7 linked regions of the Homo sapiens genome follow. The protein of the gene in region 5 purifies or fractionates together with the protein of the main gene of each other region. This does not show direct contact. Each region holds a gene or a part of one and is shown on either strand. Other genes may lie near its edges. The genes, in order: KIF1A, MRPL14, MYO6, LAMTOR3, COX15, TOP2B and VDAC3.

The links.
Region 1: the proteins of COX15 (region 5) and KIF1A purify together in Homo sapiens (affinity purification with mass spectrometry, with the first as the bait; one large-scale study listed by BioGRID). This does not show direct contact.
Region 2: the proteins of COX15 (region 5) and MRPL14 fractionate together in Homo sapiens (co-fractionation; one large-scale study listed by IntAct). This does not show direct contact.
Region 3: the proteins of COX15 (region 5) and MYO6 purify together in Homo sapiens (affinity purification with mass spectrometry, with the first as the bait; one large-scale study listed by BioGRID). This does not show direct contact.
Region 4: the proteins of COX15 (region 5) and LAMTOR3 fractionate together in Homo sapiens (co-fractionation; one large-scale study listed by BioGRID). This does not show direct contact.
Region 6: the proteins of COX15 (region 5) and TOP2B purify together in Homo sapiens (affinity purification with mass spectrometry, with the first as the bait; one large-scale study listed by BioGRID). This does not show direct contact.
Region 7: the proteins of COX15 (region 5) and VDAC3 purify together in Homo sapiens (affinity purification with mass spectrometry, with the first as the bait; one large-scale study listed by BioGRID). This does not show direct contact.

Annotation. Positions count from the first base shown.
Region 1 is NC_000002.12:240,817,168-240,821,868, reverse strand, and holds the start of KIF1A (kinesin-like protein KIF1A), read left to right. Parts: upstream 1-1,649; 5' UTR 1,650-1,747; intron 1,748-2,591; exon of another isoform or gene 2,592-2,763; intron 2,764-4,701.
Region 2 is NC_000006.12:44,117,150-44,121,246, forward strand, and holds part of MRPL14 (large ribosomal subunit protein uL14m isoform a precursor), read right to left. Parts: intron 1-4,097. UniProt on the Homo sapiens protein: Forms part of 2 intersubunit bridges in the assembled ribosome. Upon binding to MALSU1 intersubunit bridge formation is blocked, preventing ribosome formation and repressing translation.
Region 3 is NC_000006.12:75,747,761-75,752,038, forward strand, and holds the start of MYO6 (unconventional myosin-VI), read left to right. Parts: upstream 1-1,478; 5' UTR 1,479-1,663; intron 1,664-4,278. UniProt on the Homo sapiens protein: Myosins are actin-based motor molecules with ATPase activity. Unconventional myosins serve in intracellular movements. Myosin 6 is a reverse-direction motor protein that moves towards the minus-end of actin filaments.
Region 4 is NC_000004.12:99,887,781-99,891,877, forward strand, and holds part of LAMTOR3 (ragulator complex protein LAMTOR3), read right to left. Parts: intron 1-4,097. UniProt on the Homo sapiens protein: As part of the Ragulator complex it is involved in amino acid sensing and activation of mTORC1, a signaling complex promoting cell growth in response to growth factors, energy levels, and amino acids.
Region 5 is NC_000010.11:99,714,808-99,718,904, forward strand, and holds part of COX15 (heme A synthase COX15), read right to left. Parts: intron 3,694-4,097; coding exon 3,539-3,693; intron 1,673-3,538; coding exon of another isoform or gene 1,655-1,672; coding exon 1,541-1,654; intron 1-1,540. UniProt on the Homo sapiens protein: Catalyzes the second reaction in the biosynthesis of heme A, a prosthetic group of mitochondrial cytochrome c oxidase (CcO). Heme A is synthesized from heme B by two sequential enzymatic reactions catalyzed by heme O synthase (HOS) and heme A synthase (HAS).
Region 6 is NC_000003.12:25,654,729-25,658,825, reverse strand, and holds part of TOP2B (DNA topoisomerase 2-beta), read left to right. Parts: intron 1-4,097. UniProt on the Homo sapiens protein: Key decatenating enzyme that alters DNA topology by binding to two double-stranded DNA molecules, generating a double-stranded break in one of the strands, passing the intact strand through the broken strand, and religating the broken strand.
Region 7 is NC_000008.11:42,394,446-42,398,542, reverse strand, and holds part of VDAC3 (non-selective voltage-gated ion channel VDAC3), read right to left. Parts: intron 3,460-4,097; coding exon 3,410-3,459; intron 1,866-3,409; coding exon of another isoform or gene 1,863-1,865; intron 1-1,862. UniProt on the Homo sapiens protein: Non-selective voltage-gated ion channel that mediates the transport of anions and cations through the mitochondrion outer membrane and plasma membrane.

The sequences.
Region 1 (4,701 bases), on a different chromosome or scaffold from region 5:
GTGGCACACACTTGTAGTTCCAGCTACTAGGGAGGCTGAGGTGGGAGGATTGCTTGAGCTGGGGAGGCTGAGGCTGCAGTGAGCCAAGATGGCACCACTGTACTCCAACCTGGGAGACAGAGCAAGACCCTGTCAAAACAAACAAACAAAACCATAAAAAGCCAGAATATAAAGAAAAAAAGATATGCTAGTCATTTAAATATTAACGTGAAATAGATTAATTCCTAGAAAAATGTCTATTGCCTCGAGAAATAGAGAACTTGCCAGATTAAAAAGCATGAGGAAAACGGAGGTGATAAAGACCCCAGCCCCAGAAGCCCAGATGGTTTTATTGTTTCTGCCAGGGTTAGGAAGAACAATTGATTTCTCTTTCATGCCGGCGGTTCCAGGAAATAGTGAAGGAGGAGGAGCTGTCTAGCTGGTTTCGGCGGGGCTGGGGCTGGGAGTGGGGGGCCCGTGTCTTGCAGAAGTGGATGTGAATCTCCCCCAGCCACCTGCAAGGCGCTCGCACGCAGCTGTCGGGACTGAGGTGAAGCCGGCTCTCCCAGGAGTGTGGATGAAATGGTTAACGGCGAGGCCGCTAGGGCAGCGCAGGCCCCTGCTGGGCGCCAGGGAGGCTTAGCCAGGCGACGCCAGGATGCCCATGGCAGGGGCTCGATGGCAGGGGCTGGGCTGGAGGGGACCCAGCCCCGGGGTTCAGGGTGGCCCGAAATCCGTGCACCCCCGCACCGCAGTGCGGGGAGGTTCCCATGGGCGAGCTGCCCAGAGGCTTTGTCGAAGTTGCCCAGCCCTGGGACGGTGGAGGGAGGACGGTGGCGCGCACAGAGATACCAGTCAGCCCCTGGAACTAGGAAGGCGGCTGGGGGCGGGTGACGCAGGCTGGGGTTTGCCGGGGTGGCCCCCGAGCGGCGTGTGACTTGGGGGTCCAAGGAAGTTAAACTGGACAGGCTGGGGTGAGGACAATGGGGGCCTGGAGAGGTGGGGCGAGAGGAGGGCGGGGGGTCCCCACGAGCCGCGGTAGAGGCGAGGCGGCGGGTCCGCGGGCGGGTTGCATCATCCGGCGGGGAGGGCCTGGGTCACTGCTGCTCTTCCCCCGGCGCCCCGGCCCCGACACAAGATGCGATTTCACCGCGCACCTGTTACACCCGGAGCCAGCATCCCTGGCGCAAGGAGCCCTCCCTCCCCAGCCCCGCCCGCCCCCCACGATGCGTCTGTCGCTGGCTCAGAGCGGGGGCAGGTGGACGTTTTACGATTTCACTCGAAAGGGGCCAGGGTGGGGGACGGCCCGGCGAGGGGTCCGCGGGCAAGTTCAGGTGCACGCGGGGCTTCGGGACGGGGCGCCGCCGGGTCCCTCCCCCGCGAGGTCTCAGGGGCACGCCGGGGGAGGGGACGCTGCGTCCGAGCCGGGTGTCGGTCCCCCACCCTCCGCGGGGCCCGCCGCGGTGTCAGCGGTGACGTCACAGCCCGGCCCCGGCCCCCTCCGTCCCCAGCCCCATCCCCGCGGCGGCCGCGTCGCCCGTCCCTCTCCCCGCGCGACAAACCAGCTGGCGACTGGAGCTCGGACGCCGCGCGCAGCCAACCAGCGCCTCGGGAGGGGCGCGGGGCGGTCCGGGCCGGGGGCGCGCAGCCCGTCACGCGGCGGCGCCGTCACAGCGCAGAGCAGCCGGCGAGCGGCAGCAGCTCCGGGCTCGAGAGCCCGCGCCCATGCCAGTGCCCATGCGGGGCCGCCGCCAGTGACGCCGGAGAGGTAAGGCCGCCGCCCGCCCGGCCTCCCGCGCCCGCGCCCCTCGCCCCGCACCTGCGCCCGGCAGCCCGCGCCCGCAGCCCGCACCTGCACCCACTGCGCCCAGGGCGGGGAGCTCCGGCCCGGCGCCCTTGTTGCCGCCCAAAGCGCAGGCACTGCGAGGCCCCTTCACTTCCAGACCTTCCTCCATCTCCGCAGAGAACAATGGGGGAAATTCAGGGGTGTCCGCCCTTCAGGTGCCGCTGGAAAAGGTCCCTTTGCCGCGATCTCGGCTGCAGCGGGACCCTCGGCTTAGGCGGGCGGGGGTCGCCCTCGGGAGGGCTCGCCCGGCCGGCGGGATCGGGATACCCCCGCCCTTCCCCGGCTATTCCGCTTCCCTGGAGAGGAGCCACCGGCGGGGCTGCGGGAGGGGCTGCGCCCAGACGGCGGGGGAGGGGAGGGATGGTGAGCGGGGCTGAGGACGCTGACGCCGCACCTGGGAGGGTGCGCGGCTGCAGCGCCTCGGCCCGAGGGGAGAGCGCGCAGGGCGGCCGGGCGCGGGCAGCTGCTCCGGTTCCCGGGGTGGGGGAGGGCGGATGCTGGAGCCGGGAGCAAAACAGGCGGGCGGGGCGGGGGCTGCGGCGTTGGGGCCTGGCCACCCGCTTCGTTGCACGGCCGGCCTGCCCATCACCCCCTCCCACGCCAGAGACCCCAGCTCCCTTCCAGAAAGACCCAGCACCTGGGAGGGGCCGCCGGCGAGCACTGCCTGCGTCTCAGCAGCCAGCGCCCCTGTAACAGGTGTGGCCCGGCGGCGAGGGAGGGGCTGCGGGGCCGCAGGGTCTAGGCTGGCGGCGCGCCCCCGGCGCCCGGGCTCGGATGACACGAAGGAACAGTGGCCGCGAAGACCTTCGCACTCCCGCTTTAAGCCGCTCCTCACGCTGACTTCCCCCAAACCAGCCGCGCTGCCCTCTCGCTGGGAAGGGCCGGGGCAGCATCCCCGCCGGGAGGGAGGGTCCGCAGGAGCGGGGCGCTGGGCGCCGGTAGGTGGGGTTGGGGGGGCCCTGCCGGCCGCAGGGGCGGGAGGGGGAGGGGAAGGAGGGAATGCCAAGTCATGGGGCCTGCTGGGCGCGAGCGCGACGTCGCCCGGCGCGGACCCGATGCGCGCCCACGTCCCCGGGAATAGGGACTTTCCCCCAGAGACTGGAGGACCCCTTCCCCAAGCGTCAGCCCTTTCCAAGGGGTGCCTGCATTGCTGGAATTAAAGGCCTGCCAGGGCAAGCGGATTGGATCTTGCGGCTGCGGAGAGGAGGCGGTGCGGAGAGGCCCCTGCCTCGCAGGGCTGGCACTGGCCTCACCCTGGGGACGCACAGCGCGACACCGTGCTCGGCTCTGCGGGACACCAGGTCGCACTCAGGCTGGCGGGGCCTTTGCCAGGGAAGCCATGCCAGCACCCTCGTGGTGTGAGAAGGCAGCAGAGGGTTTGAAGGGAAGCTCTGGGGTCCACGTGGGGGTTGGGGCTGCACCTGCGGCGGCCATTTTGCAGGTGTGGTTGGCCACCAGCCTTAGCCAGGCTGTGGAGTGGGGCAGTCAGGAGTGGGGCAGTCAGGAGTGGAGCAGATGTGGAGCTTGCGGTGCAGGGTGTGGGATGGGCCAGGGCCAGGGCTCAGGTCTGCCCTTGCACTGAACACACACCGTCTATTTAGAGGGGTTCCTTGTTTGGTTGATGGGGTGGTTGGAGTCAAGACCCAGGAACCCTCTGGACCGGAGGGATGAGGAGGGATGCGGTAAGGCCGCTGGCTGAGGGGCCCAGCGTGGGATCGGAGGAGGGCAGCCTTTACCCGGGGTGAAGTCTCGGGAGGGTGCTGGGTCCAAGGCAGGGCCCGGATGAACAGCTTCACTCCGGCTGCAGATGGATCTGAGGCCCTGCAGGTGTCCTCCCCGGGCAGGTCCGCAGGGTGGACAGAGGCTGGAATCAGTTGTCAAGGCAGGGGTCCCGGGCCGGGCCCAGGGAGGTCCCTGTGGTGAGGGCCTGCAAGATGTCTGCTGTGTGCCAGCCCTGCTCCCAGCCGGGTGCTGCCCCCCTGGGTGCCTCCTTTCCCCCTTCCCCACTGGAATGTCCCACAGACTGCCCCATCTGGGGCTCCAGCCGGCCAGCCACAAACAGGTGGAGCCTGGAGTTCTGCCCAAAGCCCAGGGATGATGCTTGGCTGGATCAGGATTAAAACTGGGGTCACTGCCCGGCCGCCCAGCCTGTGCCCCGCAGTCCTCACTGATGTCATGACTGCTGACCTTGGGCCCACCATGCCCTTTGGGAGTAGGGTAGGGCAGTCCTCCTGTGGGATTTGTGAAGGGTGGAGGGGGAGATGTGAGCTGGAGGAGGAGGCCCTGGAGGAGACTGAGGGCATCTCTTCAGGCCACTCAGCCGGGCCGGCCAAAGCAGGTGAACTGGGTGTGGTGGGGACGGGAAGGGAGACGTTCCCACAGAGCCCTGGTCCTACCAGATTGGGGTCTATGGAGGGGCTACCAGCATTAGGTCATTGGGATTTACTGAGCCCTGCACATGCCTAGCTGGCCAATCCCGTCAGGCCTGAGACCATCCGTGCACATCTATCAGTGAGCTGGGAGGGGCCTGAGCCGCTACCACGGGTGGAGAGTGGTGGGCCTGGGTCTCTGGGTGGCTGTGATTGGTAGGATGAGCACGTGGTTGTCTGCCTGCAGAGTCTGGGGACCTCTCTAGGTCATTGCCACATTCAGTGTTCTTAGGCCCAAAGGATGTGGCTCACCACCCACAATATGGGTGGCCAAAGGGACTCAAGGTGTCACCTCCCACTGCCCATCACCCACTCCATGCCCAGGAGCGTCTCTGAGAACCATGGGGGGCTGGGCCACACCCTGCCCCGAACCTGTCCATGGGTGGCCAGGGTACCCAGGGACACAGCCAGGCAGCGTTGGGCCTGCGTCCTTGCCGGCTTCTGCCC
Region 2 (4,097 bases), on a different chromosome or scaffold from region 5:
AAGGCCAGCAAAGCAAAGCCAAAGGCTGCTCTTGCCAAGTCAAAGACCAAAGTCTTTATTTGGGTCAGTCTCCCAAACACTGTAACATGGAAAACTGACCTACACCATACTACAGCTGAAAGTGGGCTTTGGGAAACCAACTTGAAGAGTTAGCTAAAAGAGCAAACACCAACCCAAGACTTGTGACTCCAGTTTTCAGAATCTCAACCCTGTTGCTCCCTAGCACTAACAAATATGGAGGCTGCCAGTGCCCTGAAACACCTGAACATCACTTCAGAGCATGCTTCAGAAAGGCCTGTAGCCAGCTGCAAAACACACCTGTTTTTCCACCCAAACGTTTGGCAGCAGAGGTGCCCATTCAAGAGGTCTGCCGAGAAAAGCCTCTACACTGTAGTATTTACACACAGCTTTGCTATGCACAAGTTCAAACCACCTCAGATAAGATTTTATTTAATAAGAATGTTAGGGTGGGGCAGGGGAATCCACTCCTCCCCAGGAATACCTAGACACTCCATACTTTTTTTTCTTTCCTTGAGACAAGTCTTGCTCTGTCACCCATGCTGGAATGTAGTGGTGCAACTGCAGCTCACTGCAGTCCCGAACTCCCCAAGCTCAGGTGATCCTCCCACCTCAGCCTCCCAAGTAGTCAGGACCACAGACATGCACCAGGACGCCTGGCTAATTTTTTGTGTTTTTTTTTTTTTTTTTTTTTTTTTTGTAGAGATGATGGTCTCACTATGTTGCCCAGGCTGGCCTTGAACTCCTGAGTTCATGCAATCCTCCCGCCTCAGCCCCGCAAAGTGCTGGGATTATGGGTGTGAGCCACCCACCACACCTGGCCTTTAAATGCTTATTAACTACAATTTAGCCTCAAATCCCAAACTTACTCCCAAATGTTTTCCTTAAGACAACCCATGAAGCATCAGCCAAAATGTAATTATGATCAGAAAAATCAAATGCAAAAGAAGGCAGCTAATGTATGCAACTACTAACATCTGACACACAGAGAATCACAGACTACCAAATGAGACTAGCTTTACTTTTACTGGTGAGATGACCCTGGACAAGTAACCAAACTGTTGAGCTTTGGTTTACCATCTGTAACACAGGGATACTAATAGTATCTGCCCCCAAGGTAGTTATGAGGATTCAATTAGATAAGCCATGCAAAGCACTTAGCACAGTGCCTGGCACTCATTACCTATTAGCTATCATCATCATGATGTCATATATCATTTTAAAGATTAGAAAATTGATATACAGGCAGATTAAGTGACTTGTGTAGAGTCCCACAATTAGTCAAGGGCAGAAACAGAACTGGATCCAGGTTCAGTCCAAGAGTGTTCCAACCGCACTCTGCAGCCTTGCTCTGCTATACCAAAGCTCATTTCACAGGAGAGCCCTGGGTGTCAAGCAGCTTTAAGGGTCATTTGGCCTCTTTCTGTTTCTTTATTTATGAACACTTATCAAATGGTTACAATGTGTCACACAGCAGGCTAAGTGTCTTACATTACTATCTCATTTAAACCTCATGGCCGGGCACGGTGGCTCACGCCTGTAATCCCAGCACTTTGGGAGGCCGAGGTGGGCAGATCACCTGAGGTCGGGAGTTTGAGGTCAGTCTGACTAACATGGAGAAACCCTGTCTCTACTAAAAATACAAAATTAGCCAGGCGTGGTGGCACATGTCTGTAATCCCAGCTACTCAGGAAGCTGAGGCAGGAGAATCGCTTGAATCCAGGAGGTGGAAGTTGCGGTGAGCCGAGATCGCATCATTGCACTCCAGCCTGGGCAACAAGGGCAAAACTCCGTCTCAAAAATAAATAAATAAAATAAACCTCAAAAAACCCTATGAAATGGGTACAATTATTATTAGCCTCATTGTTATACACAAGGAAATAAAGCCCAGAGAGGTTAAATAACTTGCCCAAGGTCACATGGCTAGGAATGACTAGGCTGAAATATGAACCCCAGTTGTGGGCTTCCTAAACCCATGCTCTTACTCAACAGAGTAAACATGGCAACTTTAATTTAAATATTAATATTTTACAACTATTAAATCATTCTTGTTCCATCAAGAATACTGACGTCAGCTGGGCGCGGTGGCTCATGCCTGTAATCCCAGCACTTTGGGAGGCCAAGGCAGGCGGATCACTTGAGGCCAAGGTCAGGAGTTTGAGACCAGCCTGGCCAACATGGTGAAACCCTTCTCTACTAAAAATACAAAAATAAGCCGGGCATGGTGGCGGCCGCCTGTAGTCCCAGGTACTCAGGAGGCTGAGACAGGAGAATCACTTGAACCCATGAGGCAAAGGTTGCAGTGAGCCAAGGTTGGGCCACTGCACTCCAGCCTGGGCAATACAGTGAGACTCCATCTCAAAAAAAAAAAAGAATACTGACGTCACATGCACATTTTACTCACAGCCAATTCAGTGCTTGCTGAATCAACTGAAATGTAGACACATATCAGGTGAAAATTATTCACTTTAAGTTTTGAAGACAATTTGTAGTGTAGGAGGCAAGAAGAGATCAATACTCAGAGCAATAACTAAAAACTAGCAAAAAACAACAAAACAAAACTTCTGAAAAGCAGAGTCCTTCTGGTCCAGGCTGCAGTTAACTCAAATCCCTGCCAAGCTGTTCCCATCTGATGCTGGCAGGTCCTTGGCTCCTTGAGAGAGAAGAGCGTCCTGAACAACGCCACAGAACCCTCAAGATTAACCCAGCACCACCCACATTCCCTCTCCCGAGAAGTGCAACACCCTGCCTCTCAACACCGCACTGCTTCCTCAAGAACACTGACATTAGTCCAAGAACTGCAGAAGCACTTAAGGGCTTCCCAGAACTTTCTTGACTCAGGTATCATCACAAAGCACCTCCCTACACTCTGTAAGGCTGTCAGTGCACAAACACAAACTCAGGCCTCCTCTCTGCACCTTGCTCACAAGCCATCTCCACAACCAACACTCATCTCTGCCCAGACAAATGTGACCCAGCTCCACAAGCATCTCCTCCACAAAGTCTTGTGTCAAACGGCAGCATCAATTGCTACCCCTCCTGAACACTGGGACATCCTTGTGCCAGTGCAACACTCACTGAACCAATATTCACTATCCAAACACCCACAATGAGTAAATTTGTATACTTTGAGATAAGTCTGATGTCCTTTAACATTCTATTTCTTCCCACTCACTATCCAAAATTCAGAAACCAGATATTCTGACAACATGGCAACTGAACGTGCTACAGGAATTCAGGAGCCACACAGACTTCGATGGTAAGGATTACCTGTACTGCCCTCAAACCCAAGAGTGATATATTCATGTCTCTAGGAAGCACTTCCCAATTCAGTGACTTTTCACTAGCTTTTTAGTGGATCTGATATTGACGTCTAGACCTAAACCCAAAGGACTCAGACATCAAATGGCCAGCAGTTAGCATTCCTATGAACTTGAAAGCACAAAAGAATCAAATATTCACTTATTGTATATATGTCCCTTATCCCTCCAAAAAAACAAACTGTTATACCCTCCTCTTCCACCCTAGCAAAAGACCCCAGCCAGTCCTGATAACAGTAGGAGTGCAATAAATACTTGTTGAATAAAATAAATGAGGTAGCCAGGAGAAAGACAGGTCCCCCATGGCTCTGACGGAGGTAAATCCAGAAACGGCAGAGCTCTTATCTGTATTTTTGGAATCAGGACATGTCAGGCAAACATGCTGTAAGAGAATGATGGTGCTAATCATGGAGGATTAGCCCGTGCTTTGTTTCCAGGCCCCCTGGACTCACCTCCTGGGCCTGGTGCCTACACTGCCTACTATGGAAAATGCCTGATCCCACCACTAAAATAACTGTTTCAGATCAGGGAAGAGCAATGGAGGCAGCAATTTACTTCAAAGCAACTCTGATGGACCCTGATATTATTTCCTAGCATAAATCCACCCTATGGACACAGACCCTGAATCACTTCAGACCTAGTCTATATACAATGGTTGTTTTACAAGCAATGTCACTCTGGATCTTGTGCACAGGAGACTGACTTCAATGACAGTTCCTTCTCTACAACACTCTCACTTAGAGGAGGCCAGGTATTTGG
Region 3 (4,278 bases), on a different chromosome or scaffold from region 5:
AAAATGTATTGATTTATCTAGGTGTGGTGACTCACACTTGTAATCCCAGCACTTTGGGAGGCCAAGGGAGGGGGGCGGGCAGGGATTGCTTGAGGCCAAGAGTTCAAGACCAGCCTGGGCAACATAGCAAGCCCCTGTGTTTACCAACAACAAAAAAATTAAGAAAATTAAAAAAATGTATTGACTTCTATTGGTTTGCCAAATGAAGTTTAGTATTAAATCCAAAATTGAGTCAGAGCAGTGTGAACTGAGACAGCCATCTTCATCTTCTCCCTCTTTTTTTCAGTTTGTTTTGAAATTTAGTTTTATATACTTAAGACTTACCTTCTGGCAATTTGGAATTAAATTTCTGAGATTGCTGTAAATTATTTCCTTTCTTTGTTTCTCTTCCTCTTTCTTACTTCCCTATTTTACTCTTAATATTTTATTGTTTTAGTTGAATTCTAAAACATCTTATCAGAACTTAGAGTTTTTATTTCTCCACCCACAGAACCATGGAGTCTTTAAGTATCAGAAATTTGTCTCCTCGTCAGAATCTTCTAGATTTCCAGAAGTTTCCAAGTCGCTACATATAAATGTTGCAGAAAAACGTGTAATTCTCATGTGCAAGTAGGCTTTTTTCAGCGGATACATTTAGCATTATAGTCAATTGTTATTTCGTTGCCTTAAAAGAAGCTGTTTTCATTGTAAAGGTGATGTGTTTTTACCATATAATTCAAATTTGCATAGGTACTTCATATTTTAAAAGGTGACTCACAGGTATGTCACTAATAAAAACAGTAACATTTAAACGACTGAGAAGGTAGGGGCTCTAAATAAAGTAAATGCGTCGGCGAGGGTAGGAGCGGGAAGAGGCAAAGGGGTGCGAAATTCCCATCCCAAGCCCCCTCCTCCAAAGACCGAATGGCAACTTAGTTGTGCGGGAAGGTTCCCCCCTATGCAGGGCAGCCCAGTCCAAGCCGGCCCGATCCGGGGCCGAGTGAGCAGTGGTTCTTGCCGCAACCGCCACGCAGCCTCGCTGCCGCCCAAGCGCGGACACCTGGTTCCTGGGTCCCCCGCGCGGAGCCCCGGACTCCTCGCCCCTTCTCCGAACAACTTTCTCCCTGCTTGAACTGATTCTCGCTGTTGGTAGACTGCACAGTCACAGTATCCAGCCGGACAGGACCTGCTTTGCCGGGACTGGAAACAACTACCGCGGCAAAAGAGGCCGTTTCGCCATGGGAAGAACAAGAACTCCCGGCTTGTCCAGGGGCAGCCCCTCTCTGCGCTGCAGGGCGCCTACCCTCGCCCCAGAGGCTCTGCGCCGCGGGCGGGGCGACCCCGGGGGTCGCGCGCCCTCTCCCGGAGCGCGCCCTCCCTCCCGGAGCGCGCGCCCGACGGCCTGCCGCGGCCCCGGCGCCCCCGCCCCTTCGGGCGCTCCGTAGCCGTGACGTGCACGCCGCAGTGCCGGGGACTCGGCGGGGCGCCGGCCGGCGGGCGGAGACCGACTCGGGATCTGTCCGAGCAGGAAGCCAGCCTCAGCCCGGCCGCTGTCGCCGCCCTGTCCTGGTGCCCGTCCGCGTCGTCGCCCTCTTCACTGGCCCTCATCACTTCTCACCGCGCCCTCCAGCTTCACCCGTACAGGTAGCCCCGCCGCCGCGCACCTGCCTTCGCTCCCGCACCGGTGAGTGTCCCAGAGACCCACTGCGGGGCGTCGGCGCCGGGGTCTCGCGTTCCCTGGCCCGGCCTTGCTCCCGGGCCTCCTCGAGCAGCTCCGGGGCCGACGCTTCTGTTCACTGCCCGAGGACGCGGGTGGGAGAAGCAGGTGATGGATGGGTGGGCCCTGGGCAGCAGTGGGGCCGGCGGTGGTTCTCGTTTCCACCGAAAGACAATCAGTCTCCTTTCATGGGTTCTCATCACCAAGGTCCCTTTGTGTTTCTTCCCTGGCTCCCAGGTAGAAGCAGAGCACTCAGGTGCCTAACTCGGACTTGGACACTCCGTGATAGTTTTATTTTCTCTTTTGTAAACACGCTTAAAATTCAGTGCAGGGGGAGCGCAGTTTGCTCTGAGATGTGAAGATCAAATGATACCATTAATAGTCTAATCATGTAGGAGACCAGATCGAGACTTTCTAAAGCCTTATTCTTAGTCTCCAGGTGGTCCAGTACCTTGAGTATGTTAATTTACGGATATGCTACTGAACAAGAACTTTTTTTGTTAATTTCCAAAAACTCCCTAAAACGATTAAAATGCTTAAACTCTGGGATTTTAATTTTAAGTAGGACACAATTTGATGGGGTTATTGCTAGAACATCCGTGTTTAAAAGTATTTCCATACAGTTTAAAAAATTCATTACCTTTTTTTTTTTTTTTTGAGACGGAGCCTTGGTCTGTCGCCCAGGCTGGAGTGCGGTGGTGCGATTTCCTCTCACTGCACCCTCCCCCTCGCGGGTTCAAGCAATTCTCTGCCACAGCCTCCCGAGTAGCTGGGATTACAAGCGCCCACCACCACGCCTGGCTAATTTTTTTGTATTTTTAGTAGAGACGGGGTTTCACCATCTTGGCCAGGCAGGTCTTGAAATCCTGACCTCTTGATCCATCCGCCTCGGTCTCCCAAAGTGCTGGGATTACAGGCGTGAGCCACTGCGCCTGGCCAAATATTCTTTACATCTTACCTGGCATAAAGTGATGTGGTGGAGGGATGCTTAAATCCTGATTTACAAGTATTAGTGAGAAATGAGGAGCACTGCCCTAACTTAATAGACTTAACTGTACGGGCTAAATAAGCCTCATTTTTTTTTTTTTTTTAATGCTCTGGTGGTATAGATGCAGTCTATCTAAATAAAGTCAGAACTTGAGAGTTTTAAAAATTAACTTTTTTTTTTTTGAGACAGAGCCTCGCTCTGTCAGCTCACTGCAACCTCCACCTCCCAGGTTCGAACGATTGACCTCCCTCAGCCGCCCGAGTGGCTGGGACTACAGTAAGGGCGCGCCACTGCCCAGCTAATTTTTGTATTTTTAGCAGAGACGGGGATTCGCCATGTTGGCCAGGCTGGTCTCGAACTCCTGACCTCAGGTGATCCACTCGCCTCGGCCTCCCAAAGTGCTAGGATTACAGGCTTGAGCCCCCGCGCCTGGCCTGAAAATTAACATTCTTAAGATTTAGCTGAAACTTATCTTCACACCATAAAACGTGAATCTTGAACTTGGACTGGTAGTGGTCATGGTACAAAGGTTGGCGGCAAAACAGCATTTCTGTACAAATTAACTGAACTTCCTAGATGTCTTGGGTTGTGGTTTTCAAACTGGAGAATGTTTAGTGAAAAAATTACCTTTGTGCCTTTTTTCCTTAATTGTAGAAACCGCCACAAATGTTACAAAGTGGGCTATAGCCAGAGCTTGAAACCATGCTGCCGTTCAAAATAGCTCACAGACTTTTATATATACAGCTCATTTTGAGTATTTTACGTTACGCAGGAATTGCATCCACTTTGGTAAACAGAAGTCATTTTAGTCTTATGTACATTTGCCCATTATTTTTGTATTTTTTGTGTGACATGCTGTTTATCATTCTCTCATCTTTGTAAGTTACATTTTTGTTTTCAGAAACCATTGTAAATGTAACAGAAGTATGAATGACATTTAAGGAAAGATCATGATTAAAAACTGTATAATATATAAAACTATATATGATATACATATATATTCTTGGTTAGTGCCTAGAAACATGAGCAAGAAAAATGTTATGAACAATTACAATATTTAATGTAAATTAATGCAATTAAATATTGCATTAAAAACAAAAGATCGTAAATCATAACCAGTAGGGATTATCTGAAATGGATTTTTCCCTGTTTATGTTTACGTGGTCAAGTTTTAAAATAACAGTGGCCAGGAAATCTGAGAGAGGCTGAAGGCTCTGTTCTCATCCTGTTGTGACTTTGCCTGGAGTCTGTGGTGTATCATGTAGCCCATTGTTTAGACAACTGGGCTGTATCTGGGTTCCAAAATGTAGCTTTCTTTAGAAAGTTTTAAAGACTTTGACCATGTGAGGCTTGAACAAATGCAAACATCCAAACATTGAAAAAAACCCATTTTAACTTTCTGTTGATAGTTGAGACTCCATTTTTGACATGTAAAATACCAGTTTTAAGAAGAGTTTACTAACCTCTGTGTAGTTTCATTTTTATATATTAAAATATCTAAAAATATTGGGAAGTGTTATAACTTAAATAAATCTCAGAGTTTATTTATTCTTTTTTTTTTTTTTCTCTGAGATGGAGTCTTGCCCTGTCATCC
Region 4 (4,097 bases), on a different chromosome or scaffold from region 5:
TGCCTTCACATGGCTTCCAATGTAAAAAGTGAATGTGTTACCAATAAAATAATCTCACAATAACAAACGTAAAACTAAAACTGGTGGCAAGTGTTGTTAAAAAGTTCATAGGGATATGAGAACCTAGAAAAGAGGAGGCTGATGCAGACAGACAGTGGGCCAGAGAAGGCTTTCCTGGAGGCAGTAATACATCAGCTGAGACGTTATGGCACTAAGTGAAAAGACGTGGAAAAACTGTTCCTGGCTGAAGAAACAGGGCAAAAGGAATGCAGGCTATGCAGTAATCCTTTCAGCCATGCTTACGTAAGAAGTAGTAAGCAGAACGGTCAAGCTATAGCTCTAAAGTTAGAAAGATCTGGGTTCCAGTCCAGGCTCTGCCACTTATTATTTATGCTATCTTGGGCTAGTTATGAAACCTTTACAAGCCTCAGATTAACAATTTGAAAATGGGAATAACTGTACTTACTTAGATACTGTGAAATTTAATAATACAAGGCATGTAAAGTGTAGGCTGGCACATAATTCAAAAATATCACTTATTAACTAATACCAGTGGTGTCAATTGTGCACACTGACAATGACATAATTTATCACTAAAGTACTAAGTTATCAGTGAGAATCCCTGGGAAATTAGCAATTAAGAAACATATGGTAGAGCACAAATATACTGTGTTAAAAAATATAAGGTGACACTCCTCGACTTTCAACATTTATGCAAAACCCTTTCATTGTTAACATAAATCTTATAGTCCTGTAACTATCTTATGGTATCTATAAACTACAACTCAGAGATATGTTCAATGTCCCTACAGCAACCCGGAATGATCTATTCTTTGTGTTAACTTTAATGTATTAACTAAGGAATAAGAAATACTTATATTAACCTAATGTTTAAATACTGACATTAAATTTTTTAAAATCCCATTGTCAAAAACTTTTAAGTCAGAAAAGTGTTATTAAATATGAATGGAAAATGTTACAAACAAAATCATTTGTCTTCCTTACATTAAAAATAAGAATAAAATAACTTTATAAATGACTTTTATACTATTTTTATCCTATTATTGGCATGATTTCCTAATCATTCAATCCTAAACTTATTTATAGATTAAAATATATCTCTAAGATTAATACATAACATAGGCCGGGCACAGTGGCTGACGCCTGTAATCCCAGCAATTTGGGAGGCCAAGGTGGGCAGATCACCTGAGGTCAGGAGTTTGAGACCAGCCTGGCCAACATGATGAAACCCCGTCTCAGCCAAAAACACAAAAATTAGCTGGGTGTGGTGGTGCTTGTCTGTAATCCCAGCTACTTGGGAGACTGAGGCATAAGAATCGATTGAACCTGGGTTGCAGTGAGCCAAGATTGCGCCACTGCACTCCCAGCCTGGGTGACAGAACGAGAGTCTGTCTCAACAACAACAACAAAAAGATTAATACATAAAATAAATATATTCTTCTAAGTTAAAAACTAGGTTATATAAAACATATACTACAGATATTTGTACATAAGCCAATTATTTTGTGCAGTTACCAAAAGCAACATCATTTGAAACAGTAAAGCATTACAAATCCAACTGTCCATCAAGAAGGACAAGGTAAGTTATGATATACACCTACAAAGGAATACTCTGGAATACTCTGCAGCCATGAGAAAGAGGAAGTTCTCTATGTACCAGGAAAGATTACTCTCAAAGTTACATTCTTAAGTGAAAAAATACACAGTTTAGAACAGTGTATAGAAGAAGCAATAAATTATGTACCAAAATATGCAGGCATATGTGTATGTTGTGTGTATAAATACGTGTATATACATGTCTGCTCATAGGTACATAAAATATCTCTGTAGGTAATGGTGGGTGCCTCTTTGAGGGGAAACTGTGCATGTGGCTGGAGAGGAAGGATGGGCAGCTTCTCACTCTATGTTCTTCAGTTAAGTCTTGAATCTGAACTCTGTGAATGTACTACTTACCCCCAAAATAAATTAAAAAGCAGGTAAAAAGAGGACCACAAAAATGTTTAGAAAAATTAGTGCCACCACAGGTAGCTTCTTTTTTTAAATTTCCATGGAAATTACTTTAAATACAACTAATGCTCCAAAGAAAATAAAAGGACTTTCTTTTTGATGGACTTCACAGAGAAATGAATCAAGAAAGTAGAAAAATTACTTACACTCTTAAGTATATAATTTTAGAAATCAGGTCACAAATATAAAAGCTGTTTTCAATTCTACATACAATGCGCAAAGAGTAATATAAATAGAATTTACTAATAATTAAAAATAACTGGCTCATTAAGAGATACTACACTTTTAGAAGAAATGAATTAAATTTTGTGAAATATTCTGAAGAAATCTAAACCTTAAGCTTACTAAAACAACCATTTTTTTCTAAAAACAAATGTTGCATTACTAATCAAAGACATCGGATTTAGTTTTATACACATAATTATGAAATATTTGGTTGTTTTAAAACATACAAAGTGGGATTATTAAAGCCTGAGACTGCTTTGGGTCACAACCAGATTTTAAATTGCAAATACAAGAACGATATTTTGCAGAGAATTCAAAAAACGCACAAAAACACACATTCCATTAGTATCCGTAGCTGGCTGACTTTGTTACTGAGAGGCACTGAGGTACAACAGTTAAAAGCATGAATCCATGGCTCTGAAGCAGGATGCCTGCATCCAAACCCATACATCTAGCAACAAATCAAAGCGTATATTCTACTATTCTTCATAAATGTTCAAAACATTATTATTTCTTCATTATTACTGTTCTGGGATGCAATAAGCCTATTTTCAATAAATGATATAATGAGTTGAACTGGCTTTTTTTCATTATTAAAAAAAAAACTGACAGTACTAATACCTTTCCTGCCATTATGAAAGATTTTCATAAAGCTTTTAACAAATATCCTTTAACTGAATTTATTTCTTGGATAAGCACAACAACCTGATATTTCCCCTTTTGTTAAAAGATAAGAGACATCTAAATTCAAAGAAGAAGCAAGCATTTACTTTCCAACTATTTTTGATCAACATTAGAACTACTCAGTAATATAATAAATACTTTTGGTATTATTCTCTAATTCCTTTACACAGACAGCTTCATCATATCCAGTGTCACACGCTATTATGATTTTGAGAGCACACTTAATAGTTAAAATGAGATCCCCATTGTCTGAAACATTTTTATTGCTTATAATCACAGATGATGTAATTAGAATCAATTATTGCTTTATTAGATCTCCAGGTGACTAATGAGTATCTTTCTGGTCGGTTTATAACTTAAGAACATTGAATGCAATTTTGCTGTTTCTTCAATAAGAGATGCTAACACTCAAAAGAGGACTGTAAATCACTAAGACTTCTAAGTGAATTAACTATGTACTATTAACTATTTCATCATATCACCAGCGTAGTGGGGTATCTCTCCGTCCCAATTTGAGCGCCCTTTCATTACGCTAAGGTAACTACAGAAAAACACAGAAAGCCCTCATTTTGCATAGTTCCAATATGCACATTTTAGTTACTATGGTTAAGTAATACCACTCCCTGCAGAAGAGCACAGGTCAAATTTTAGTTAGCATGGCATAATACCTCAATAACTACGTAAAGTATAAACTTTTCTAACTCTTTAGTCCACAAATCACTACATAAATAATTATGTAATTAACAGATGCACACTGTCATCAGTAACCAGCCACATCATTTCTTTCAAAGTATGTTGATGGTTGGTCACTGTGCATCTGTTATGCAGCTCATGCAGAGATAGCAAAGCATGTAGTTTTGTACCTCCTTGTCTCCCAATGATAAAGTATGTGACATTTAGAAAAAGAGATAATAAAAAGAGGAAACTGGCCAACAAAGACGAAATACAGCAAAGAAATGAAAAGTAATAATGCTGAAATTTCAAATAGAAATGCTGAATTTCAAATAGAAAGTAAAGAATTATAGAAGAAACAGATGACCAAGGGAATGCTGACACTATCGCTCTAGATACACAGAGAACTCAGTGAAGGCAAACTTATTGACATAAATGAGGAAAGCGGTTGTGACGAAAATTTTCCAGAGGACGTGAGGCTGGCAAAA
Region 5 (4,097 bases):
CCACATCCTCCTATCAGAGCACTTAAAATACACACATTTTTAATTTCACAAGCAAATATGCTTACAATGAAAGAAATTCGAACAAAATTGATAAACCTAAAATTCCCCTTATTCTTCAATCCATCCCAGTTCCCCAGAGTAGTCACTGTTACCAGTTTCTGCATACTTGTACTTTAGTATGTTTATAGAGAAATAAATATATAGTTTTGTGCTTTTAAAAAACATATTGTTCTGTCACTTGCTTTTTTTCACTTAGCAATATACACTATGTATTGAGATCTTATTAAACTGCTGTGCAGTATCGCACAGTATGGATATACCATAGTTTTTTTTGTTTTGTTTTGTTTTGAGACAGAGTTTCACTCTGTCTGCCAGGCTGGAGTGCAATGGCATGATCTTGGCTCACTGCAACCTCCACTTCCAGGGCTCAAGCAATTCTCCTGCCTCAGCCTCCCAAGTAGCTGGGATTACAGGCGTGTGCCACCCCGCCTGGCTAATTTTTGTATTTTTTAGTAGAGACAGAGTTTCATCATGTTGGCCAGGCTGGTCTTGAACTCCTGACCTCAGGTAATCCGCCCACCTCGGCCTCCCAAAGTGCTGGGATTACAGGCGTGAGCCACTGTGCCCGGCCCATAGTTTTTTAACTATTTAGGTTGTTTCCAATTTTTCACTATCACAATTCTATGATGAATTTTCTCATACAAAAGGTCTTTGTTGCATTGGACTGTTTCTAGGACTGACACTAATAAGTTCATTTGCTGGGCCAAAGAATTACCCATTTAACTTTTAAAAGATATTGCCAGCCTGGGTGACAGAGTGAGACTCCATCTCTAAAAAAAAAAAAAAAAGATATTGCCAAATTGCCTTCTGGAAAAAACTGTACTGACTCATGCTCTCACCAGGAATATTTGAAAGTATCCATTTTCCTATGCCCATGGCAATACCTGATTATCTTTTTTTTCACTTTTTTCCAATTTGATAGGCACAAAATGGTACTTATTTTTTAAATTTGCTCCTCTCTGATTATAAGTGAAGCTGAACAGCTTTTCATGTTTACTGGCCATTAATCATTGTTTTTGTGGTAATTGTGTATTGATGTCCTTTACTTATTTTCCGGTTATTAATCTTTTAATTTATTATAAATATGGAAAATATTTTCTCCTAGTCTGTCACCTTTCCTTTTTTTTTTTTTTTTTTTTAAACAGACAGGGTCTCACTCTGTTGTCTAGGCTGGGGTGCAGCGGTGCGATCTTGACTCACTGCAGCCTCAACCTCCCTGGCTCAGGTGATCCTCCCATCTCAGCCTCCCAAGTAGTTTGGACTACAGGCACACACCAACATGCCCATCTAATTTTTGTATTTTTTTTGTAGAGATGGGGTTTTGCCATGTTGCCCAGGCTAGTCTTGAATTCCTGGCTCAAGTGATCTGCCCACCTAGGCCTCCCAAAGTGCTGGGATTACAGCCATGAGCCACTGTGCCCGGCCCCTTTTTTAACTTTGTATTGGGGATACTGTCAGAACAAAAAGAAGTGGTTTATACCTGTGTATACGCCAAAGCCAGCAGAGTCACTGCTGCCATCTTGGTCCTTCTAGGAAGGGGAATTCTCCGAGAGAGGAAGTAGAGCACTGTAATGGCAGTGACTGAAGTGATTCCCTGCAGGGAAGAAAGAGTCTATCACATTAGATAGAAGTGCCAGGTTTCTAACTCACCTTACATGTATCTCCTCTAGAACCACTCAGCAACCATGAAGTACTTTCCTGTACCAGTCACAGAGAACCTCCCTGCAGTCCCAGCCTGATCACTCCTCCACAGGCTGTCTCTTCCACCATCCTCTTCTGCTTGCCACTTAAACGTCGGTATCACCCAGGCTCCACCTAAGATTCTGTATGTACTTTATACACCCTCACTCCCAGTGATCTCATCCACCTTCCAATGTGGGTGTCCCCCTCATTTTTAATTCTTTGCATCCTTATCCCTAACCATATCTCTAATCCTATATTCTTAAAGCAGGGCTGACCCCAGCACATGAGGGTTATTATTTTCCTGGGCTGTGAGTGGAGAAAGTGCTGGTGCTGCCAGCTGGTGCTAAAAAAGACCTAAAGTCTCATTTTCATTCCTATCTCTTCAGAACAAGGGTCCAGGACTGGCAATAATGGTCTCCTTCCTCTTCCACGGTATCAGGGAGAATGTTTTCTATCATATTTCTACATTTATTTCACTTCATTTCCTTTTCAGTGCTGTCCACAATGACAATTTCAACCAGGCTTTACTTATGCTAAAATACTGTGCGCAGGTGGGGACTCAGCCCACACCAGGTAACATGCCTCAGCCCAGCCCCCGTTGGACAGCTGAGCCCTCTGGCCCCCTCTCTCTGGACGTGCTGCTCTCATCTCACACTCAACATACCTCCATCTGATGACATCCTCCCACCTCTAGCTCCACACTCATTCTGAGGGTCCCATCCCTGTAGGTCATGTTTCAAGCATGCTGTAGAAGAAACTTTGGGATTTCACTTGATCTTTCTTCACCTTTATTCCTGACAGCCAATCTTATTAACTCTTTTCCTTTATTTATTTATTTATCGTAGAGATGAGGTCTCCCTGTGTTGCCCAGGCTGGTCTTGAACTCTTGGGCTCAAGCGATCCTCTTGCCTTAGCCTCCCAAAGTGCTGGGATTACAGGCATGAGCCATTGCGCCCAGTGCTCTTATTTTTAAATTAAATTTAATTTTTTAAGAGACAGGCTCTCACTCTGTCTCCCAGGCTAGAATGCAGTAACGTGATCACAGCTTACTGCAGCCTCAAACTCCTGCTCAAACAATCCTCTCGCCTCAGCCTCCCAAAGTGCTAGGATTATAGGTGTGAGCCACCATGCCCAGCCTCTCTATTCCTTTAAATTCTCTCTCAAATGCATCATTCTTCTCAAGTCCCACTCCCACCATGTAGGCCCCATCTCCATCACTCTCCCTGGCATTACGCAGCAGCACTATGCTTCTCACAGTCTCCTTACTGCTCATCTTTCCCCGCTCCAATTCATCACACACAGGCCTCCAAGCCAATCTTTGAATGGCCCATAGCAGACCCTCAAAACATATTCGCTTAAATAGAATGAAAAGTACTGGTGAAGCTCCTGGCTCCTTGAGCTTCTGGTTTAGCTCCGAGAGCTACGTGCTTAGCAGCTATGGTCTCCGCATTCGCTTCTCTACTCAACCACATTTCTGCTGAAATGACTTTCTAGGTACGTGCAGAATTGAGGGAGGTTATCACTTGCCAAGTGGTAAAAGGCACATTTGAACTTTTAAGAAGCTGGCAACGTCCTGAAAGCTAGAATTTGGCTGGGGTTGGGGTAGGGGGACAGGGGTGAATAATGAGGACAAAGACATTAGATTAGAGAAATGGTCCTAAAATTTCTTCCAAAGAGAGCAGGAAATATAGTTCCTGCTCTACCCTCTCAGTGTTGCCATCAGTGCTTCACTGACACCCCAAAGCCTATGATAGGCTCCTGTGCTCTCTGGCAGGTAACCACCAACTACACTTACCAGAATCCGGTGATCAAACTGCACCATGGTGGGATTCTCAAAAACATTCCTCAGGATGGGGGAGAAGGTAAAGAGGTCCTCCGGGATCCAGGATTCTCCCATTTTGGGAAAGGAGTTATAAACAAGCCCAGCATCTAGCCCTGCCACAAAAGCCCCTGTATTCCAAGGTAAATGGTATTTATTAAAATGAGAGGAAGAAGAGACCAAATACTAGTTCTGATATAGAAAAAGTCTGTTATCCCAGAGTTAAACTAAGGGAACAGTCAGAGAATAATAGACATATCTGCAACAGGAGTTCTCCAACAGAGAAGATACATCACAATCACCAAGGAAACTTCAAATCTCTGCATCCTTACCTGCTCCCACCCCAAGATTCTGCTTCCTCTAGAGAAGTGGAGTAGAGGCTGTGGTGTGGGGGGAGGGGGAGAGGCTTATTAGCTTAGAAAAATTCCCTTAGTGATTTTGATGCCCTCCTCACCCCGCCACTGAGTGCTACTGATTTATTTTAGAAATGCTCTCCCACAGATGTCTGCATGACTGACTCCCTTATTTCCTCAGC
Region 6 (4,097 bases), on a different chromosome or scaffold from region 5:
TAGTCGTTCTGAAAAATAGGAAGTTTTACTGGAATGTTTTCCATTTTCTTCTGAAGACTGAGAAATGTTCTTGAAAAAGATCAAATCTTGGATTAGTATTAAATCTGTTTTTTTATTAGGCATTAGCAATATTGCAAAAGTGCCATAAGATAGGTTAATATTTAAAATATATAGTCTATATAGTTATTTTGGTATTTTTGTTATAATTTTAAATTTTCCCTAAATGCTTTGTTTAATTTGGCAGCTGACTTGAAATTCAGAAAAAGTCAATGATGTTATCATCATATTTATAAATGAAAAAGAATATAATTAAAACAACTTTTAGATATGTGTAGGAAATTTAATATGGTGATTATTTTACACTTTTATTGTCTTCATGATAATGAAAATGTAGCCTTGATTTTTTAGATTCCAATTTAATTGGATGCTGGCATTGTTTATTACTATCAGTAGTTTGGTAATTTGTTCACATAAATTAAGGCAGGGAAATAAATTACAAATAAACTTAACAAGTTTTCAATCGTTAGTCTCAACGCAAATTTATTCAAAATGCTTTTGGTAAATAATAATAATAATTATTATTATATATTTTTTGAGATGGAATCTCGCTCTGTTGTTGCCCAGGTTGGGGTGCAGTGGCGCTGTCTCGACTCACTGCAAGCTCTGCCTCCCGGGTTCTTGGCGATTCTCCTGCCTCAGCCTCCTGAGTAGCTGGGACTACAGGCGCCCGCCACCATGCCCAGCTAATTTTTTTTTTTTTTTTTTGAGACGGAGTCTCGCTCTGTCGCCCAGGCTGGAGTGCAGTGGCGGGATCTCGGCTCACTGCAAGCTCCGCCTCCCGGGTTCACGCCATTCTCCTGCCTCAGCCTCCCAAGTAGCTGGGACTACAGGCGCCCGCCACTACGCCCGGCTAATTTTTTGTATTTTTAGTAGAGACGGGGTTTCACCGTTTTAGCCGGGATGGTCTCGATCTCCTGACCTGATGATCCACCTGCCTCAGCCTTCCAAAGTGCTGGGATTACAGGCGTCAGCCACCGCGCCCAGCCGGTGAATTATTATTTTTAAAGGCATGTTGTTAATTTTTATTCAATGTGGAGTACTGTGAGCAATTGCTATAGAACATGATATCTTATTACTGTGAACATATAAGAATAAAAAGAGGTAAAATCAAAAGACTCTTCTGGGTCTAAAGTGAGTATAATTCTGTTAGCCTGCATGTGTCAGATATACATCACTCTCTTTTATGATCTGTAAAGTTGAGGTGCTTTTATAAACATGCAGATAGGAGTTTGCTAGTTTGTGGTTGTTCAAGGCAATTTGCTGTTCTCTTTTCTGAATATTGTCAGCAAGAGTGTTAAAATTGAAGAGCTACCCAGGGTGACATTTTTTTTAAGAGATAGAGATAGTGATGATAACAGCAAGGGAGAAGGTGCAGAATAGGTTTCTCATTTAGCTTCTCTCTTCTAAGGCCAAAGGTGGTTTGTATTAAATATGCATACCTGTTCTAGGGATGGGATCATCATATTAACTGGGTAAGTTGCCCTCTCTCCCCTTACCCCAGATTTTGATTTTTAGTGACCTGGACATTGCTCAGGGGACAACTTTCTGCTGACAAACAGGAGTTGAAAGAGACTATTATTTCAGGTTTCTGTTACAAAAACATATAAAAGTCTCAGGGGAGAACCTCCTGTGTTTGCCACTAGTGAGCCAGTGAGCAATGTAAATTACCATTTGTTGAGAATGGGAACGTAAAAGACAAATTGGATTCTAGTGTTAATTTCTACTTTCTACTCTGCCAAGGCTGCCAATCTTATTTGTGTATTTTGATTTTGTTTTTGCATAGCCTCTAGTGAGAAAGTTGGGGTTGCAGAAGTAATAAATAGGTGTAAACATTGCCTCTAGGAAAAGAAACCTTCAGTTTTATTCTAGCTTAATTATGTTTTCACATACTTGGGTTAATAAGCCTTTAACATATTTCTTTATGCATTCATTGTAGAAATTTAGAAAAGGTGTAGAAAAGATAAAAGTGGCATGTATTTCTACTCTATAGATAATTTTTATTGATATTCTGTTGGGCATATTTCACATTTTTTCCTATGCATGCATATATTATGCATAATTTTTTTCTGACAAAAATGGGCTCATGTTTTATATATACTCCTTTGTAATGCCCACTAAACAGTGCCATTTTGATAAACTACTAATTTAAACATACTTGATTATCTTTACTAATATAAATTTTCTATAAAAACTAGAGCAATAAAAGATTAACACCAATTATTTTTAGTATAGTAATTATAGACTTATTTACTCATTGAAACGTCCAAGTTTAAGGGTTTATATTAAGGATTTTTGTTTGTTTTTTATCTATTTATTTATTTATTTATTTTTGTGATGGAGGCTTGCTATCACCCAGGCTGGTCTCAAATTCCTGGGCTCAGGGGATTGATCCTCCGGTCTCAGACTCCAGAGTAGCTGGGACGACAGGCCTATGGCACCATGCCCTAGGTTTTATAAGTTGTTTGATATTATAATTGGCAGTTGATTTGAAATATCTGCAAATGACTTCCATTGTATTCTATAAATAATGTGTATCCCTTAAGGCTTTTCCTGACTTTAAATAGAATGGTATATCTTTTTCTTTCCTCAATAGTTGTCATATGATATTTAGAAAAAAGTGTATTGTCACACATTCATCACACTTATTTTACAGTATTTCTATGTTCTTCCTAGAGAAAATTACAAATAATATTAGACAAAGTCATCTACATTTCACATGTTCAATTTTTTTTGTTGTAAAAAAATACAACATTAAATTTACTGTCTTAGCCATTAAGTGTAGAGTTCGGTAGTGTTAAATATATTTACATTGTTAAGCAACAGATCTCTAGAAGTATTTCATTTTCCCAAACTGAAACTATATCTACTAAACACTAATTCCCTCTCCCCCCAGCCCTTGGTTAACCACCTTTCTACTTTCTGTTTCTATGATTTTGATTACTGTGGATACTTTATATGATTGTAATCATACAGTATTTGTCCTTTGTGACTGGCTTATTTTGTTTAGCATAATATCCTTGAGGTTCATCCATGTTATAGCACATGACAAGATTTCCATGTTTTTTGAGGCTGCATAATACTCCATTGTATCTATATACGCATTTTAAAAATCCATTCATACACCAGTGAACATTTGGGTTGCCTCGCCTTTTGGCTATTATGAATAATACCGTGATGAACATGGGTGTGCAAATATCTCTTTGAGATTTTGCTTTGAATTCTTTTGGATATATACCCAAAAGTGGGATTGCTGGATCATATAGTAATTCTATTTTTAATTTTTTGAGGAACCTCCACACTATTTCCATAATGGCTGTAGCATTTTTCTAGCATTTTATATTCTCACCAACAGTGTAGAAATGTTCCAGTTTCTCCACATCCTTACCAACAGTTATTTTCTGATGGCTGTCTTAATAGGTGTGAGGTGATATCTTATTGTGGTTTTGATTTTCATTTCTCTTATTAGTAATGTTGATTATCTTTTCATATGCTGTTGACCATTTGCATATCTTATTTGGAGAATTGTCTATTGAAATCCTTTATCCATTTGAATGGGGTTATTTTGTTATTGTCGAGTTATAGAAGCTCCTTATCTATTTTGGATATTAACCATTTGATGGTTTACAGATATTTTCTCCATTCCATACGCTGCCTTTTCACTCTGTCAGTTGTTTTCTTTGGTGCACAGAAATTCTTAAGTTTGGTGTCCTGTTTGTCTATTTTTGCTTTTGTTGCCTGTGATTTTGGTGCCATATCCATGAAATCATTGCCAAATCCAGTGTCTCAAAGGTTTTCCTTTATGTTTCCTTCTAGGAGTTTCAGAGTTTTAGGTATTACTTTTAGGTCTTTAATCTATGTTAATTTTTGTATGTGGCATGAGAGTCCAACTTCATTCTTTTGCTTGTTATCCAGTTTTCCCAGCACCATTTGTTGAAGAGACTGTCCTTTCCCCACTGTGTAGTCTTGGCATTCTTGTGAAAAATCATTTGGCCTTTTATGTAAGGGTTTATTTCTGTGCTCTCTCTTCTGTCTGTATG
Region 7 (4,097 bases), on a different chromosome or scaffold from region 5:
TATTTTAACCAGTTCTGCCAGGCGCAGTGGCTCATGCCTGTAATCCCAGCATGTTACGAGGCCAAGGCGGGTGGATCCCTTGAGTCCAGGAGCTCAAGACCAGCCTGCGCAACATGGCAAAACCCCATCTCTACAAAAAATACAAAAAATTAGCCAGGCATGATGGCACGTGACTGTAGTCCCAGCCTGAGCCCAGGAGGCAGAGGTTGCAGTGAGCCGAGATCATGCCACTTCACCCTAGCCTGGGCAACGGAGTGAGACAGCTCAATACCAGTTTCAGATCTTTCCATTACTCTACTTCTCTTATTAATATCTCTTGTTCCATATACTCTCTTACCAAATGGTAATCCTAAATTCTCTCCTTTAAAAAAGAAGTATCTTTACTGAAAACAAATGCCTTTACTAAAAAGACCAAAAATATTGTATCTTAAACATTTTACTTTCATGACCTAAAAAAAGATTATCAGTTCTCTGCTATATGTTTCAAACTATCAGTTAATTTCAAGGTCCTTAAAAATCCCAAAATACTGCCCTCCTCCTTTTTAATAGGGTCAACACTTTACTACTTCCTTTTAAAAATGTTTTTTTTTATTGTGGTAAATACATGTAACATACATTTTACCATTTTAATAATGTTTTAAGTGTACAGTGAAGTGGCATTAAGTACAGTCACACTGCTGTGAAAACTTTAATGCTTTTGTGTGCAAAACTGCAAAACTTCTGCTTAGACAATTTCAATATTTGAAAGTACTACCCATTTTTCAAAATAAAGTAGAATGCTATAATTTATCCTTCTTTCCCCCTTTCTATCCTGTCTACCTTTAAGAGTGCTTTCTATCAAACAGTTACTATGAATGAGACTCTGTCTCAAAAAAATAAAATAAAATAAAATACATCCTTTGCCCTAGTTCAGTGCCCTTTAAGTCATATGACAATAAGCAATTAGAAATGGACCTCCTTCTGGGGAAAGCAGACAGCACCTGTCACTGACAATCTATGAACTGTCAAGAAAAAACATTCTGATTGGTCCTGTTTTAGGGAGCATTTCTGAAATCCTGCCAACAGTAATGAGATGCTGCCAACCCTGACCAGTCTTTTTCACTGCCTGCAACATGAATCCTCTCCTTAACAAATGCCCTGTCCCCTAACTCTAGTTCTACAGGCAGATGAGACAACTGGGAAGTTATGTTCTGTTTATCAAACCACACAGAATGGTTTCAAAGAGAGTATCATGCTGCACATTTAGGGGAAGGCCTTAGTAAAAAAAAAATGATAACATGTTAATCATGTTTAACTGTTCACATAATTATTTTAACGTGACAATCATTTTTCTTTTAGTAGATCCAACTATCTAGTGTTTTATTTTTTACATTTACTTTTCACAAACTTGACAAGTATAACAAATGCAAATCTTAATTTTGGTGCTAGAAAAACCTTATGCACAAAATTAAGGTAGAGGGGTAGTCTACATTTCTCCCTTGTCAGCATCAATTCTTAGTTTGAAGGTCTGTCACGAATCTAAAATGCCACAGGTACAAATCTCAGAAAAAAAGGCTAGAATTGTTCTAAGTTGAGTTCCAGGCTCACGATTCACAGTTCAGTTTGTGTCTAATTTCATAATTTGGTCAAACAAGTGCAAAACACATTTATAACATGCATATAACATGCATATAGCTCTACATTAAATGCTTAGTAAGCAACAAAACAAACAAAAATGTTACTGTTAAGTAGATAGCATATGAGAAAAATATCAAGACACAATCTAAGAAATTTGGAACAATGATTGAAATTTATCCTAAATCAATACCAGAAACCAAAAGCAGCCATAAAAACAAGCATACGAATAAGCTTTTTTTTCTTACCATCTGAATGAATATTACCACACAACAGCAGCATGAAAGGGAGATAAAATTTTAGTTGATAATTTTTGCAACACAAACCTAATGAGCAAATTCTGGAACCTACACAAAATGAGAATGATTCTTCTATTTTAACAGAACTATATACACAGCGTGCCCATCTTAGTAAGGGAGGTGCATATATATTTATTTACTCCAGAGAAACCCAGGGAAAGAATGATGGTCACAAACCATGATTATACACAGTATCATTAGAATTCCACATGTCTTTGTCCTTCTAATTATACATTCAGAAATAAAATTTTCATGGGTTTGAATGGATAAATACCAAAAACGATGCAGCCAATGAGGAGAAATCAGAGTAAGGTAAATTAAAACTTAACCTACTTGCTGAGATTTATTAAATAAAAGCAATTTTTTCTGAGACGGAGTCTTGCACTGTTGCCCAGGCTGGATGGAGTACAGTGGCACGATCTCTGCTCACTGCAACCTCTGCCTCCTGGGTTCATGCCATTCTCCTGCCTCAGCCTCCCAAGTAGCCAGGACTACAGGCACCCGTCATCAGGTCTGGCTAATTTTTTTGTATTTTTAGTAGAGACGGGGTTTCACCATATTAGCCAGGATGGTCTCAATCTCCTGACCTCGTGATCCGCCCGCCTTGGCCTCCCAAAGTGCTGGGATCACAGGCGTGAGCCACCGCACCTGGCCTTTTTTTTTTTTTTTTTAAGACAAAGTCTCACTCTGTCACCCAGGCTGGAGTGCAATGGCTTGGTCTCGGCTCACTGAAACCTCCACCTCCCAGGTTCAAGAGATTCTCCCGCCTCAGCCTCCCGAGTAGCTGGGACTATGTGCGTGCCACCACACCCAGCTAATTTTTGGTATATTTTTAGTAGAGACGGGGTTTCAGAATGTTGACCAGGCTGGTCTCGAACTCCTGACCTCATGACCCGCCCACCTCGGCCTCCCAAAGTGCTGGGATTACAGGTGTGAGCCGCTGCACCCAGCCAAAAGCTATTGTTAATGATACTTTGAAAATATGCCAACATAGCCTTTACTGTAGTCTTTACTTCCAATAAAAAAAACTTTATAAACATCAGTTAAAAACTGTAGAATAATGTACATGCATACGTGCAGAAATACATTTTATTTACATATTTTGTTTCGACTAATCATGAAGGGGCAGAGTAAAGTTAATTTGTTTTTGTAAAAGGGTAATAAAATTTCCATGAACCCATTATCATGGAAGTGAGGTTTTTGGTGCCCATATACATATTCATGAAAGTATAAACATATGACATGGGTCAAAAAATATATATTCTACATCTTCTGAGTGAAAGCTGTAGTATACTCTGAGAAACACAAAAGGTCTCTTCAAAAATTCAACTTGGTTGTTTATTTTAATTGGCTAAGAATGCTGTTTAAAATCTGAGAGGACAAAGCTGTGGGGAAGACAGCATGGTGCTGGTTCAAGTAACTAGACTGTCATGATTTTAAACAGATTCCTTTAAGTTAATTATGTTACATTCATTAAAAATATATTAGATACTCACCACTCCACTACAAGACTTGGTTTTCAGGTCTATCTTGACCATGCCAAAGCCTATACACACACACACACAAAAACACAGTAATGTACAAAATGTGACATTCACTAGTTTTTGCAACTCAGAAATTATGAAATAGCCTATAGTACCTTCCATATGAAAAATGCATAGTATTTTCATTGGGTGAGAGTTCCTCAAGAAACTGAATTATAACCAAATAAATGCAGTATAATTTTCAAGCACTCAAAATGAATAAAGATATACTTTTAAAATGTAAGTTAAAGAAAAAAATAAATGAAAGGAATATGCACTATTCCAAGAATCAAAATTGCTGAAAATAGTGTGCTGCTATATATATCGTTTAAAATATAGTTAACATTACTAGTTAATAAGAAAAAATCAAATATGTACAGCACATAAATTTAAGTTAAATTTTAAAACCTAAAAAATATTTATTTAGGATCAGAATATACATTACTCCAAAGAAGTCAAAAGTTATGTTGTCACTTTCATAAAAACAATGCCACTGTTTGGAGGGAGGAAAAGTTCTACCCCCTAATTTAATTGTCCTCAGGGCCAGACAAAGAGACATAAATGTTATATATATTATTCTACATTCCAGATAACATTAAATATGGACATGTATATGCATCTGTATATGTATATAATTGCTTTTAATGCTTGTAAGGGGTTC